Linked DNA regions of Homo sapiens. The protein of the gene in region 2 interacts with the protein of the main gene of each other region in a pairwise test. Each region holds a gene or a part of one and is shown on either strand. Other genes may lie near its edges.

Region 1 (7,000 bases), on a different chromosome or scaffold from region 2:
GTCCAGTTTCTTCCCCTACCCTGATTTTGTAGCTGAAATATGCACATTCTATGGGTACTGACGCTCTAACTAGAAGGGTCAGGCAATGCATTCTCTTTTCTCTTGGGGAGTTCATTACAGACCCCCAAATATGGAGACACATCATTGATACAAGACTTGAAATATATAACTTGTTGATTATTGCTAAGGTACTGACTAAAGACAATTTTGAAACAAAAGTAGGAAGAAAAAATAAATCTCATAATCTCACTACCTAAAGACGGCCACTGTAAAGTAAAAGTTATAAAAATGTTTACCATCATTGCATGCTTACTATGTGGCAGATACTTTGCTAAGAGAAAAGTATCCTTTATGCTTTGTGTCATTTCATCCCCACCACAACTCCCTAAGTTAGATATTCTCCTCATTTTGGAAATGAGAATATTGAGGCTCAGAGGAGCAGGTGATCACATCTGGTAGGTGGTAGAGCTGCAATTTGACTCCAGGTCTCTTTGTCTTCAGAGCTGTTTCTTTATTACATGGTTACAATGATAATACATCACTTTTTAAAAAAAAAATTCACTTGCCATTGACTTGGCATACATTAAAAAAATTTGTTTAATTCAGACAAAACAGACATGAACGGCTTTGAAAGTTCATCATAATGGAACCATCTGGAGATAACCACTGTTAACATATTTATGTAAATTCTTGTTCTGTTCATATATGAATGTCTTTATATAAACATACATACACATGGGCTAAATACTATATGCTATGTTCTTTGGCTTTTTTTTTTTTTCATTTAGCAGCATTCCATCCTAGTATGATTTATCTCACGCCTTCCTTCCCCGTGCTTACCAGCTTTCTGCTGTTTGGACACGTCATGTGTGTTTAACCATCCCCTGATGAGGGTTGTCTGGGGTGAGATCCTTCGGGGCAGAACAGAGGAGCCTTGTGCAAGTGACTTATTGAGAACGTGCTCTCGGAAGGGAAGGAGGAATGCAGCCTAGGGTGGGGTACTGCTGAGCGAGGATGTGGGCTCAGCGGCTGTCCAGTTCAGTGTGACCCCGCGGGGAGCTCTCGAGCATGAATTGCTCCACAGAATTCATCCCACCTGAGGCAAGGGCGCTGTGGAGCATCCATTCCACTGGCAGTTCTCTGTAGAAGGTGGTGGTGTGAACTCTTAGCCACTAATAAGGGGCATCTGGCAGCATCCACCACGAGACTGAGTCCCAGTTTTCACAATTTTAAACCCCACTGCAATAAACATTCTTATACATGTATCTTTGGACATATTTATTCAACTTTTTCCCCGAGAATAAATTCCTAGAAATAGAAATACTCAGTCAAATAGATTTTATCTTTTTTTATTTTTTAATAGAGACAGGGTCTTGCTATATTGCCCAGGCTGGTCTTGAACTCCTGGGCCCAAGCAATCCACCCACTTTGCCCTCTGCAAGTGCTGGGATTATAGTTGTGAGCCACTGTGCCTGCCATTTTTTTTTTTTAAATATTGAGCTCAGCTGGGGGAGGTGGCTCACGCCTGTAATCCCAGCACTTTGGGAGACTGAGGCAAGCGGATGACCTGAGGTTGGGAGCTCGAGACCAGCCTGACCAACATGGAGAAACCCCATCTCTACTATAAATACAAAATTAGCCAGGCGTGATGGTGCATGCCTGCAATTCCAGCTACTCGGGAGGCTGAGGCAGGAGAATCGCTTGAACCCGGGAGGCAGAGGTTGCAGTGAGCCGAGATCATGCCATTGCACTCCAGCCTGGGCAACAAGAGTGAAACTCGTCTAAAAAAAAAAAAAAAAAAAGAACAATATTGAGCTCAGCTCATCTGTATAGTATTTCAGAATATGATACTGAGGGTGCTTTATTATGTATTTAGGTATAACTATTCTTTTATATTTTTAAGTAGGCAGTACACTTTCTTGTTAAAAACAGTTACAACAAAACAGTGTAAACAATTTCCAACCCTCCTCCTTTATATGTCCCATGGTCACTGCTGTGGTGACATGTCTCCTTGGCATGTCTCCTTGCAGATTTTTCAATGCATGCAAAAACACATACTTATTTTTTAATATAGAAATGGGGGCCGGGCGCGGTGGCTCACACCTGTAATCCCAACACTTTGGGAGGCTGAGGCGGGCAGATCACTTGTGGTCAGGAGTTTGGGACCAGCCTGGCCAACATGGTGAAACCCCATCTCTGCTAAAAATACAAAAATTAGCCGTGCGTGGTGGCTCATGCCCATAGTCCCAGTTACTTGCGAGACTGAGGCAGGAGAATCACTAGAACCCAGGAGGCAGAGGTTGCAGTGAGCCGAGATTGCACCACTGCACTCTAGCCTGGGCAACAGAGCAAGACTCTGTCTCAAAAAAAAAAAAAAAAAATATATATATATATATATACACACACATATATATAAAATATAGTTATATAATATATAATATAAATGGGATCTTAGAATACCTATTCTTCTGAATCTTACTTTCCCCTCCAATTAATTTATACTGGATTTCTTTTTTTCTTTTTTTTTTGAGACAGCATCTCACTCTTTTGCCCAGACTGGAGCACAGTGACATGATCTCAGCTCATTGCAAACTTCACCTCCACCTTCAAGTGATTCTTGTGCCTCAGCCTCCCAAGTAGCTGAATTACAGGCACACGCCACCATGCCTGGCTAATTTTTGTATTCTTAGTAGAGAAGGGGTTTTGCCATGTTGGCCAGGTTGGTCTTGAACTCCTGACCTCAAGTGATCCACCCTCCTCTGCCTCCCAAAGTGCTGGGATTATGGGTGTGAGCCACTGCGCCCGGCCTATAAGTGGATTTCTTTCTGTTCTTAGCACATAAAAAGTGTCCTTTATGTGTCCGTTGAAAGAATAAAAAAAAATCAGTGTCCTTTTTAGACAGCTATTTAGGATTCCATTGACTGGCATGAATCACAGCACCCAAGTGACCCCCAGTACTGCCTGGTAGCCATGTCCATCTCCCTAGTTCATTCACTATCTCATGCTACTCTCTTAATGACTTTGGCAACCCCTCTTCTCAAACCTCCAATACCTCCTTGCACAACCTCATTCTCAGCTAAAGACCTTGCTTCTTATTCCACTGAGAAAAATAGAGTAACCAGAAGAGAACATCTGCAAGCATCCTCCGCCACATCTGTCTACTTGCTTGCATCTGCACCCGTGTTTGTGGTTTTCCTTTCTGATATGGTGGATGGACTCTCCTCATACCTGCCTGGTGCCAATTCCTCTGGCTGGGCTCTGGAAACCCAGCTCTCCTGTCACTCCTGCTCAAGGACATTCCTTCAGCAATTCTCCCCTCTCTCTATTGCATTGTCAAATGTTCCCGTCAGTTAACGCACATGCTGTTATTTCTCCATTTTTACAAACAAACAAACAAACCCCTCTTGATCCCATAGCTGTCTGTAGCCAGGATCCTTTAAAGCCCAACTCTTCCAAGCAGTTGTCTATATTGTTCTTACCAATCCTCTCTTTCTCTCTTTTTGACATTTTATTAGTCAATTTCCAAAGACACATACAAGTAGGGAGTACATGGTCCCTCCTTCATTCCTAAATTTCAAAGCTAATACCAAAAAGCATGTCATTTCACCCCGCAAATTCTTCAGAATGCATCAAAATAATAAAAGGGCATTTCCTTACATGCCACAAAGATATTAGCATACTGAACAAAATTTGCAGTAATGATTTGATACCATTTAATAAGCGGTCTGTATTCAACCTTCTTCAGTTTTCTAGTTTGTTTTCATCAGCATCCAAACAAGGGCCACAGTTTTTATTTGGTTGCTATGGCTCCTAAATCTCCTTTAATCTAAAGCAACCCCTCTGCCCCTTTTTTCCATGTCACTCACTTGTTTGAAAAACCAGGCCAGTTGTCCTGTAGAATGTCCTGCGTCCTGGATTTGGCTTATCGCTTCCTCATGGTGTGGTTAAACTTGTTCTTCTGTCCATTTTCTCTTGAACCCTCTCCAGTTAGGCTTTCACACCCAAACACTCCATAGAAACTGCTTTAGTGAAAATTACCAATGACCTTGTATTGCTAAATATAATAGTGGATTTTCAGCCCTCATCTTCCTTGACACATCAGCAGCACTTGGCTCTGTTAGTCTCTCTATCATACCTGAAATGCTTTCATCATTTATTTCCAGGATGCCATCCTCTTTAGTTTCTTCCTATGTTGTGGGCTGCTCCTGCCCAGGCTCCTGGCTTGGTTCCTCCTCACCGCCTCACTGTAAATGTTGGAGGCCCCAGGCTCCGTCTCTGATCCTCTTTACCTATTCTCATTTCTTTATGATCTCATCCAGCCTCCCAGCTTAAAATACCATTTATGGAGCTGGAATATGAACGTATGTGTATCTGATTTTAGAGATGGACTAGGCAGGCCGTGCTGCCCACACAGGGCTCTCACCTGCCAAGGTCCTCACCATTCTGTCCCCTCTGTCCTGCAAAAGGCTTCCTTTGTTGGCCAAACGTGAAAGTTTGAATTTGGCTGGTAGGAAACGCACAAAGGATAGGGATGGGTCTCAAACTACTAAGAACAGCCATCACCCTGAAAATCCTCTAAATAGCTGTAAAGACTAGTTCCAACTATGAGAAAAGAAATAAATGTAACGTTCTTCATTGAAAAACAACAACAAATACCAGTAAATACCAGTAAAAGCTCATGATGCCCAACATTTCACCTCCAGGTCAGTTTTCTCCAGATTCACACATCTATCTCCCTCCTCAGCACCACTACTTAGATGCCTACAAGTCTCCTCAAACTTAGTGTGCCCAGTTTTGGAGACAATTAGCAGAGTTTGGATATGGACTAGATATTAGGTAAAACAAAAATTTGTTCACTTGGAAATGTGGAGATCTTTAACTTGTAAAGATCTTGATAAAACAAGTTACAGGCCGGGAGCGGTGGCTCACGCCTGTAATCCCAGCACTCTGGGAGCCCGAGGGGGGGTGGGGGGCGGATCACAAGGTCAGGAGTTTGAGACCAGCCTGGCCAACATGTTGAAACCCCATCTCTACTAAAAATACAAAAATTAGCTGGGCGTGGTGGTGCGCACCTGTAATCCAGCTACTCACGAGCCTAAGGCAGGAGAATTGCTTGAACCCGGGAGGCGGAGGTTGCAGCGAGCCGAGATTGTGCCATTGCACTCCAGCCTGGGTGACATCTCAAAAAAAAAAAAATTACAAAACATGTATGCTATAATTTTATTTTGGTTAAAACCTCATAGGAATATAGTCATTGAAAAAGATATGAAAGGACATACACTAAGGTGTTAATAGTGGCAGTCTCTGGGTGATAGATAATGGTATTTTTCTCTTTTTTGTCTGATATCTGTATTGTCCAACTTTCCTCAGGGCCCATATATGCTTTTTTTTTTTTTTTTTTTTTTTTTTTTTTTTGATGGAAAATCACTCTGTCACCCAGGCTGGAGTGCAGCAATGCAATCTCGGCTTACTGCAACCTCCACCTCCTGGGTTCAAGTGATTCTCCTGCCTCAGCCTCCAGAGTGGCTGGGATTACAGGCATGCGCCACCTACGCCCAGCTAATTTTTCTACTTTTAGTAGAGATGGGTTTTTGCCATGTTGGTCAGGCTGGTCTCGAACCCTTGACCTCAGGTGATGCGCCTGCTTTGGCTTCCCAAAGTGCTGGGATTACAGGCGTGAGCCACCGCGCCTGGCCCATATATGCTTTTTTATAATAATAAAAGGCTATTTTAAAGTTAAAAGAACACAGGTCTAAAACTGAACTCCTGATCTTTCCCAGAACCTTCTCCTCCCTTTGCCTTCCCCATCTCCGTGAATGGCTGCTCTATCCTTCCAGTGGCTAAGGCCAGAAACCTTGCAGTCATCCTCTCTCACTCATTGCCCATACCCATGGCTTACCTTTAAAAAATATCGAGAATCTGACCATTTCTCACTACCTCCACCATTATGGGCAAAGACCTGCATGGGGAATTCATGCAATAAACACAAATGGCCAAAGAACTTCGGAAACAGTGCTAAACTTCACTGAGCAACAAACACATGCAAATTAAACTCTGAGGTGTCATTTTTGCCCATCAGGTGGGCAAAGATTTCAAACAATCATGACACCCGGTGTCGGCAAGCTTGGTGAGAAACAGGCATTCTTACACACAGCATGCCATGCTTCGAGAGGTGGGGCCTGGAGTGTATGGGGGATGGGGTGGTGAGAGCCCGCTCTGGCCTTTCCTGGCAGTCCCTACGCTGGACCTGGGCAAGAAGCTGAGCGTGCCCCAGGACCTGATGATGGAGGAGCTGTCACTACGCAACAACAGAGGGTCCCTCCTCTTCCAGAAGAGGCAGCGCCGTGTGCAGAAGTTCACTTTCGAGTTAGCAGCCAGCCAGCGGGCGGTGAGTAAGCCACCATTGTGCTCATGGGGAAAATGAGGACCACAGAGAGCCACTGGTTAGCCTAAAGTCAAACGGTAAGCCAGGCTGAGGACTGTGATGTTCCCATCAGATTAGGCTCCTGCCTTTCAGTGTGATCCTTGAAAAGTGTTATCTTTTTAGGCATCTCTCCCTGGATACAGAACAAAGTAAACAAAGTGGATTAGGGGGTTGAGGATAAGCCGTGGAGTGAAGGGACTCTGGCTCCTACCAAAAAAAAAAAAAAAAAAAAAAAGCTAAGACAGGCATGCACTCTAGGCTAAATTTGCAGCAGGCTGGATCTAGTTTAGACTTGGGCCTGATCTAAGATGGAAAATGTAGAATGCCCTTTTTTCTTCTTCCCACCGGAGAAAGGAAAGGCCATGGAATAATCTGCTGGTGGAGAAGAAAGGCAAGAAGGGTTTTTCCCTTGGCTTCAGAAAGGCAGCAGGCAGTTCCAGATACTTCTAAGGAAGCCAGGGCTATTCCATCCACCCTCCACTTAATTTCTGGGCTAGACAGGAGGCAACTGAGAGGGAGTGATGTGGCAGAAAAATAAAGATGGCAAAACACCCGCCTTTGCTATGTGCCTAAGAC
Region 2 (8,871 bases):
GAACTGAAATTAGCATAATTTCAGAAAATGAACAGGAAAGCTCATCTTTTTGTATGATCTGGAATAGTTTGAATAACATGAGGTTCTCCTAATCTTTAATGCTGTGCTAGAATTCATATGCAAAACTTTTCAAACGTAATGTTGCCTTCTATTTTTTTTTCTGTACTTCCTGGCAGTGGGGATGTTTCCTTTTATACAATAACTCTTTAAATGCATTTTTAATCTCCTCTAAAGGAATTGTTTTCTTCAAGTGTTTCTCTTATTTGGTCAGTTTTGAAAATTTGTATTTTGCTAACTAATTATATTTTTCCTCTAAATTACAAAAATATTTCTATAGAGGACACTATTTTCTTACATGAAGACAAGTTAAAATTTCAAATGCATTTGTCCTTTTCTGTTTCTTACTAGCTCTTATTCTTATCTAATACTCTGCATCTTCCTTGTCTAGATTCAGAGCCCCTCAGAAGCACTTTTCTTTGGCTTTTGGGGACATATTGCACCATTCTTCAGATCCTAGTCTAGTGAACTCTTTTCCCCTGCCTGCGATGTGGGGTTAAGACAATTTAGGAATTTGCTATATTTTGGTGTCTGTCATACTGTAAGCTATGAGAAGTTTCAAACGACTGGCAAAATGGTGGACCCATACTGGACACTTCCAAAATGGGAAATTTTACACCGTTTATTAGTGACACTAGAAAATACTTTGCCAGACAAACATAGGAAAAAGGACAAATCCCAGAAGAGGATCTTGAAGTGACATCTCCAAACATCAGCTCTACACTATCCCTGTTGATAGTCATTTTTAATATTAAGAAAAAAAATTTTCTGTTGTAAGTTGTTATGGTAAAAGAGGGCATGTACATCGTACCTTGTACTATAGAAAGAAACCCTGGTATATGAAAGCTTTGTCTTTAAATGGAGATTTTGTAATGCCTGTTCCCGTTTTCCAGAGTCATCATGACATCAATGATGTTGTTATGTGGTCAATGATGTCAATATGACTCAAGTCACTTTGGGTTTTTCATGTTTTACAGGAAACTCAGAAATTCCTCATGTAAACAATCAGACAATTGAGCAAATTGACCTGCAAACACATATAACAGAAAACTACTAAAGTTCTTCTGCTACCGCACATGATTTAGATTGCCTTCTATACCTTTGTGAGTTTAACAGTGAGGGAAAAGTTCTGATCTAGGAAAAAGGGAATGGGTTATAGGAATTTTAGATTCTAAATAAATTTTAATCACCAACTGGCAAAATGTCATTTGCTTATAACGAGCCCTTGCATTTTCCTCTGAAAAACTGAAAATACAACATATAGAGAGGGTAGGAAAGTCCCCGCCCATTACTGAGAAATTTTTCTAATAACCAGACTATGTATCTCACAGGAAGGAAAAAGTAGATTGTCTAAACATAGCCTAGTGATTTATTAGCATATTAATTTGCTTTGCCTTCCCTGTTGTAGGAGGGAGAGGGAGAAGAAAGGAGAGTATGGGTGAGGAAATGAGAGTGCAGTGGAGGGAAGAGAGAAAAAGGGAAAAAGAAAAGGAGAGAGAGAGAGAGAGGAAGAGAAGGCAAGAGGAGGGCATTAGAGAAAGAGGAGAGAAGGCAAGAAGAGGGAAAGAGGAGGGGGCAGCAGGAAAGGAAGGAGAGGGGAAGGAAGGACAGATAAGGGGAGAGGGAAGAAGAGAGGAGAGATAATTTTGTGTGTGCTCTGTTTTTTATATTTTCCCCTACCCATATAGAGAAGATGCTGTAGGTTCCTTGGCAGAAATTGCTTAAGGCAAATCTCATGACTGGCATTTGAGAAAGTTTTTGTTATGTTATATTGGTTATCCCCAAGGGGAAGTTTGGAAAGAGTGATTGGGTGTGCAAGGCCCCAGGGATATGGTGAGGGGAAAGGAGAGGCAGGAGGGCAGAGAGAAGGAAGCTAATCTGCCCCTCCCATCTGGGAACTTCCCAACACCCTGTGTAAAGAAGAAAGGAGAGTTCCAATAATGACTCAGAGTAAATTTTCCTCCTAAGAAGTCACATGTGAGCTCTGCGTTTTTATTTAATTAAGAAAAATAGCGTATTGTGAAATTTTCTGTTTACCCAAGTTTGAGACTGCAGTTTTTTTTATTAGTTCTTTCCTAACTTGTCTCTGTCTTTAATCTCATTACTCATTTCACATACTGAGCACCCAGCATTAGAGTGTTATGATCAGCCTGGTAGTGCAGCCTTGGATTCTTACATAAAGAGTTTGCTGATCTGAATTTAATTTAGTTAATGATCCAGCAAGCACCCATTTTAGTCTACTAAATGCTAGATACTGGCCTAACTATGGCGAAAATGCCCTGAAGAATAAGAATAAAGTTCATGGTTCAAGATTACCTTTTGAGAGGACAAAACTTTCCCATATTTCCAATAATCAATTTTTAGAAAATAAACTAGATCTTAATTAAAAAAAAACAAATTAACCAATTCAGTAGATATTTATTTAGCTCCATACATAGGTAGAGCTCTGAGGAGGATAAAATTAGTCTTTTCCTCTCGGAAACATATCATTTTATAAGCAGGATGCCATACCTGGAAATTAATAGACAACTCGGAATTGTACAACAGCTTATTCTGGCAACACTTTTTTTCTTCCTGTTTCCAAAAGGAAGGAATGGTATCTCACAGTGTTCTCTGTTTAACCTTGACTGCTGGCCCTGTAGCGGGTCTTGCTTTCACCCCTCCCCGCATGACTCGTTCTCTCATAATTCCCTTCTGTATTTAGCGGCCTATGTTATTATACAAGTTTTGCTCCCCATTACATCCCTGGCATTTCACTTTGTGCTTGGTACAGAGAATATGCTTAATACTTTTCTTGAATGAATGAAAGTGTCAACTGAAGAATGACAGGTTCATACATTTGGAAAGGAGAGCTTCATTTCACATAAAGGATTGCAGCCTGCAGGGTGATCATTCTGACCTCTGAAAAGTATAGCCTCTAATCAGAAGCTGGAAACAGACATTTTGAGGGAGGAGCAAAGGAAACAGAAATTTATGTTGAGCAGGGTAGCTGAATATATATATTCAATAAGCTATAGGGGAAGCCATGAATATTTGTGAAAGGAGAAATGTGCACATGCACAATGGAGTTTCATGCTTCTCCATGGGATCCGTGTTCAAAAAATGACAGCATTAATACAATCTGAGGGGGCAGTTTTCAGCCCAATGTGAAGCAGAGGACATGAAAACCTTTACTGCACATTCTCCATAGACTAGCCAGAAACATTCCATGATCAGTATTTTCTTTTTGTTCCAAACCACAAAAGAGAGGGATAACACCAGGTGATGGTTGATGTCATTGGTGTAATCTTTTGAAATGACTGGTTTCTTTTTAGCCATAGGGCAGAAAGCCTAATCATAGTTAGTGATGGAGCGGGTATGTGTTCCACTTCCTATCCTGTCATGGCCAAAAACTTAGTTTTCAAGTTTACTCTGGGATCCCCTTGGCCAAGAGCGTGTCCGTTCAGTTAATCTAGGGGCTTGGGATTTTATTTTTATTCCTCAAATGTAACAAATTTAAAGAAAGAAAGAAATTTATAAAACATAAGAAATAGAAGTATAGCTTAGACCTCCAAGCAAGTTCTTTAAAGGTGACAAGTTAAACAGTAGTTTTTAAGATAATATTTTGATGAAATTTTTAATCATATTATTACAAGATTTTAGAAGAAGCAAGATCTTGTGAAAACAAAACCTTAATGTCCATATCTAGCTCTCTAAATCTATAGTCAGTCTTTAAAAGAGTGACACAAAAATGACACAGATCCGCCCTCTGGTTCGCTCCCCATATATTAGAGCCTGGTAATCTTCCAAAGTTTTTACAGCATGAGGCATACACAGAATAGATGCAAAAAAAGTACACCTTCTGAAATTTCCTGAATGGATTCAAACTTTTACTATTCTAAGTTAATCAATTGGTAGTCTACTTACTTTATAGGATTATTGTAAGGATAGGATCAATGAAGTGAAATATATTTTATTTTCACTGGTCAATTACTCGTATTAAAGCAATTTCATGCACTTTATCTCCCTCTCTTGGAAACTGGAGAGTAGTACTTTTTGTCTGGTTACTTAAGATTAAAAAAAAGACAATATGTCACTTTTGACTTGAGTGTCATGGTATCTATGGCCTTCAACCTGCATGGTTTTATCGTTTCAGTAATCTTGGGAGGAAGGTATTATTAAGTTCATTTGATAAATAGGAGACTGAGCCTCCACAAGGGTTAAGTGAATTGCTCAGGGTTATACAATGAACACTTGATAGAAATGATTAAATGACACTTTACTTGATTTGTTGTGGGTTACTAAATAAAGCATAGGTGTGCATAAGTCATTCAATTATTCAAGCACATTCTTCATCCCTAGTCCTAATATCGAAAGTCTTTGCTCTTAGTTTTTATAACTACAAGGATATTCATCAAAAGACCCAAGCTCAGGAATAAGCCTAAAGAGGTAGTCAGACTAGAACAAAAGACAATTCACAGACTTAAATGAATAATTTGCATTAATGAAGTTTGCCAGGCTAGTTTCCACTTGAATCTTCAGATCTTTCTTCCTTCATTGTCTTGTTAACTGTCCAGATTTATTACCTAGGAGTTTTTGAAAACTCACATATTAGGCAATAGAGTGTATTCTGGAATTGAGAGCCTATTTTAAACTTTTGACTAAAAAGTTTACCCATTAAATGTCATAGATTCAACCATCAGACTGAAAATCCTCAGTGTATTTGAAGGAGGGTATTGTCTCAAAAATCCAGAGCTCAAAGTGAAGAAGAAAGGCAAAATTTGGAATTTAGCTCTAAGACCAACTCATCAGTTCAGGGGTCAGAGATTTATATAGTTAAAGGACAAGTGTGTGTTTACCTGAGTTTAAAGAGCAAAGTTGCCTCTGGAAAGAAGCCCTCACTGGAGGCTCTGGCATTTGAAATGGTGGGCAGGAGCACATGTTGCTTAAATTTCTGACAGTGGCTGGAGATTACCGATTGGTTAGGGGAGAGGAAGTAAAGTAAAATATTTATAAATTCTCCACTGGGTGGAGTCTGAGCAGTTCTTTGAATTTCTCACCCTAAGATCTGGCCTGTACATTTTCAAGGAATTCTTGAGAGGTTCTTGGAGAGATTCTGGGAGCCAAACACTCCATTGGGATCCTAGCTGGTAAGCTTGAGGCGCTGATAAAAACTCTCTACCCTAATGTTTACTCCATGTTTTTTCCAAATGAAACTTCTGTCAGCTAGAATCCTTGTCATAGTGTTTTAGAGGTTTTTTTCTGCTACTCTCTTCTTTTTTTATATATATTCTTTTTGTAAATAAAAATGGTATGACCTTCCTAAAGGCCCCACCTTTAGAAATGGGTTAAATGAAAAGATCTTTACTAATGTAATAGAAAAGAACTGATGAACATAGTGCACTGAATATGGTTACATTTGACAAACCAAAGTTAGTCCTGTTCTTATTTGAGTTTAAGCGGTAAGATTAGGTCAAACTCCAGACGAGGGAAAGATATTCTTAAACAGATTTTAAGTCCTCTGTTTTCTGGTAACTTTAATTGTCTTATGCTGCTAGTAGTCATATTAAATATTTATTTAGAGAAGTGAAAATGCCTACTCTTGAACAGAGTTTCTTCCCCTTTCATTTTATGAAACCTAAGAAAAGAAAGTTGATACACTTTTTAAAAATATACTAGATTTTCTTTTTTCCTTTCTGCTTTTATTTTGAGGCCAGTGGGGTGTTATTTAGTAGTAACACTGAAGCAAATGTATTGATTTTCTTAACGTGTTCAGCAAGTAATTCATATCCTAGATATGAAATATACACTCGTAGCAGAGTAATGTTACCCATTTCTCAATGATATGCTTAAAGAATCTTGCTCAATATGCATATTGTTTTTCCTTTTTTCTTTACTAATGAAAAACTACACGCTTTCTCAACATATTTTTAAGTCAGGTTCTAAACTTTGAACTCCTATGTACAATTTGCTTATTTCAGGCATGAATGTGAAACTGTGTAAAGATTAACTACCAGACACTCAGTCATTTATTTAACTATTTAGCCCTAAATCAGTGGGTGACTAGGAGATTCTGAATTCTGTGATTTCGTTAAAATCAATCAGTTTTTAATTATTATACAAGCTTTTTACTTTAAAGTTGTAGCTGTCTAAATAAAATTGTGAAAGCACAATTTCCAAACCTAAATCGAAGGCACATTGATGCTGTCCATCAGAAGGTATTGATAATTTAAAAAAATATTACAAACTATCTTTTATCTTTTTATAAAGGACCTAATGTCATTTGAGCTTAACCATAATCCTTTGAAGAAAGTAAAATTTAACTTTAAATAACATTGACATACAGAGCAGTTAGGTGATTTGTCTGAGACCATATGGTATGTATGTCCCCCGTCTTGATAAAATTAACACTAAATATGTAACATTTGAAAATTTGTAAAATATGTAAAAGTTGAAGTTTTTAAAAGTTTGGATTTAAGTTCTTCCTTTCAGAATATGAGCATGTCACTTTATTTGCAAACTAAACATGGCATAACATTATGGCTTGTGAACACTAATTGTCTTAGCTGCTGGGGTGAATGCAGAATTAAGCAGCAATTAGTATGAGTGAATAAATTGCATCCTTAGAGTGAGTGCACTATGCTATTCTGGGAACTAAAGACTATATTTGAGACCATGCGAAGTTGTGCAAGTGGTGGAGTAGGGCAGGGTGCAGTCATTTGGAAGACTATGCCCATCAGGTATCTCAAGGTACCCCAGATGTGACAGGCCCAGGAGCGGAACCAGCCACTTTAACTTTTGCCTGGCTGAAACTGGACTGGGAAGGATGGATTAAAAAGGTAAATCAATTCATACGTAGCTTGTGGTCCTTTGCAGCTTAAGTGTAGGACTGAAAAAAGAAGCCAAAGAAAAAGGGAATGAGCTGAAGAAATACACACACGTACACACACACATCAGGAAGCAACAGGCAAGGAAAAATAAAGTGAGAGGTTCAAGGCTTCGAGGAGGAATTGAGCTCTGTGCATTCCATTCATGGGCTTTGCCAAAGACCAGCACAATGGACTCAGCATCTCAGGCATGGTTAAGTACCCTACTGTGCACTCTGCTATCCTTTTAGTCCACTGGTTTCTACTCTGTCTGTGCCAGGTTTTCATCTCAATATAGAGGAAAAGGATTCTGATGCCTCAGGATTATTACAAGCATTAAATAAGATACAGATAGAATGACGCTAATGAGTATCATTTTTAAAATAAGGAAAGTTGAATTTTATTCAGAATCTGTTGGTAACAAACTAATCTCTTTATTTAAGTAACCCCACTTAGAGTTTAAAGTCACCTCCAATCAACTCAAAGGGCTGACCTCCCAAAGAAAGTCTCAAATATAAGGCAAGCTCTCTTGATTCTGAATTTCATTAGAAATGTTTGTCTAAGTCTTTCTCATATGGTCAGAATGAGAGAGGGTGCCCTTCTAGTAATATGTCATTATGTCAAATAATTCATCAACCAATTTTGTTTATTCTCTCGAACTGCCACTTTGGCGGCAGGGGTACTCTGTCTAAATGAGATGTCTATAAAGATAAATTAAACATGATTCAGGCCCCCAGGTAGAGTTCAGTTCAGTAGGGTAGAACAGCAACTCAGTCCAGCTACCATCAGTAATATGTTTGTAGTAAGACTAATCTGATAGTAAGGCAGAAAAACATCTCATGGAATTTTAGGAATAGCCAAGAAGATGGGTCCCCTGGAGACTTGCACATAGCATGTTGCATGAAGGATTCAGTGACTTGCAAGATGGGCTTGTCTTGTCACCTTTTCAGGAGACATAGCTGTTCAATCCCTTGCCATTGTGTAACTAAGTGACTCTTACTTGCTGCTGGAATCACTTCATGCTTTTCATGCTTTAACAATCAGTGGTTCTGTTTTACTTTGAAAAATGAGTCATTCTATGACAGTATTCCTCCTAGACCCTAGCATTTCATAGCTTCTATCTATGATTATTTTAAATTCTAGCTCCTGTATCTAACTGAATGAATAAGCACATCCCACAGCTCAGATTCCTGAAAGAATTTGATTATGTACTCAGCTAAACATCATCACTGTTTGGTTAGAGCTTTTATAGCAAATAATTCACAGATCTTTGATGAAACTACATTGTCTTTAGTGGGTAAGTGTCCAACAGAGGTCTAATAAACTATGACCAGGCAATTGATAATGCCAAGCGGTAGAGACACAGTGATCTCTCTTCAAAATGCAGTTTCCTTCATCAGAAAGCTATGTGTGGGGAGCCATTTAGAATCAAGTTTCAGGCATAGCAAATGTTTTTGATCTTTCCTATCCATACATATGTCCAAATAAATATAGTACCTGGCAGAATGTATTATTATCGTAAGTAAAGTACATAAGTGTGCTCTTAATTGTTATTGGTGTTCAGAGGAAGACGGGCTACTTTTGCCTGAGACATCCTAACAGGCCTCTTGAAAAAAGCATTGGAGCATTAGGTCTTTGAAGGTTGGCTAGAATCCAAACAAGTTGAAGGGGAGCAAAACATTTTAGGCAAAGGAAATGGCATGAGAAAAATCACAGAAATAGAAAATTTCATGTGGAGGACAAATAATACTTATGGTCAGATATTGAAAGCACCATCCATCAATGTTGAAATCCTACACTTTTGTACAGAACCATGGATTGAAGCAGTTAGGAGTCACAACTGATATCAAAGTAAAAAACATGCAATGGTGAACCTTGGTATCTTTGTCTAGGAATATAAAGAATGGCTTATCAGTGGAGACCATCGACAGTTGAGAAAAGAAGAAGCCCAAAAAGTACAAGAATGAAA

Evidence for each region.
Region 1: the proteins of KYNU (region 2) and MYOZ3 interact in binary tests that used the Homo sapiens proteins (3 or more experiments, as listed by UniProt).

Annotation. Positions count from the first base shown.
Region 1 is NC_000005.10:150,664,251-150,671,250, forward strand, and holds part of MYOZ3 (myozenin-3), read left to right. Parts: intron 1-1,263; exon of another isoform or gene 1,264-1,781; intron 1,782-3,866; exon of another isoform or gene 3,867-4,022; intron 4,023-4,135; exon of another isoform or gene 4,136-4,348; intron 4,349-5,072; exon of another isoform or gene 5,073-5,180; intron 5,181-5,899; exon of another isoform or gene 5,900-5,959; intron 5,960-6,233; coding exon 6,234-6,388; exon of another isoform or gene 6,389-6,557; intron 6,558-7,000. UniProt on the Homo sapiens protein: Myozenins may serve as intracellular binding proteins involved in linking Z line proteins such as alpha-actinin, gamma-filamin, TCAP/telethonin, LDB3/ZASP and localizing calcineurin signaling to the sarcomere.
Region 2 is NC_000002.12:142,872,551-142,881,421, forward strand, and holds the start of KYNU (kynureninase), read left to right. Parts: upstream 1-5,113; 5' UTR 5,114-5,186; intron 5,187-8,794; exon of another isoform or gene 8,795-8,871. UniProt on the Homo sapiens protein: Catalyzes the cleavage of L-kynurenine (L-Kyn) and L-3-hydroxykynurenine (L-3OHKyn) into anthranilic acid (AA) and 3-hydroxyanthranilic acid (3-OHAA), respectively. Has a preference for the L-3-hydroxy form. Also has cysteine-conjugate-beta-lyase activity.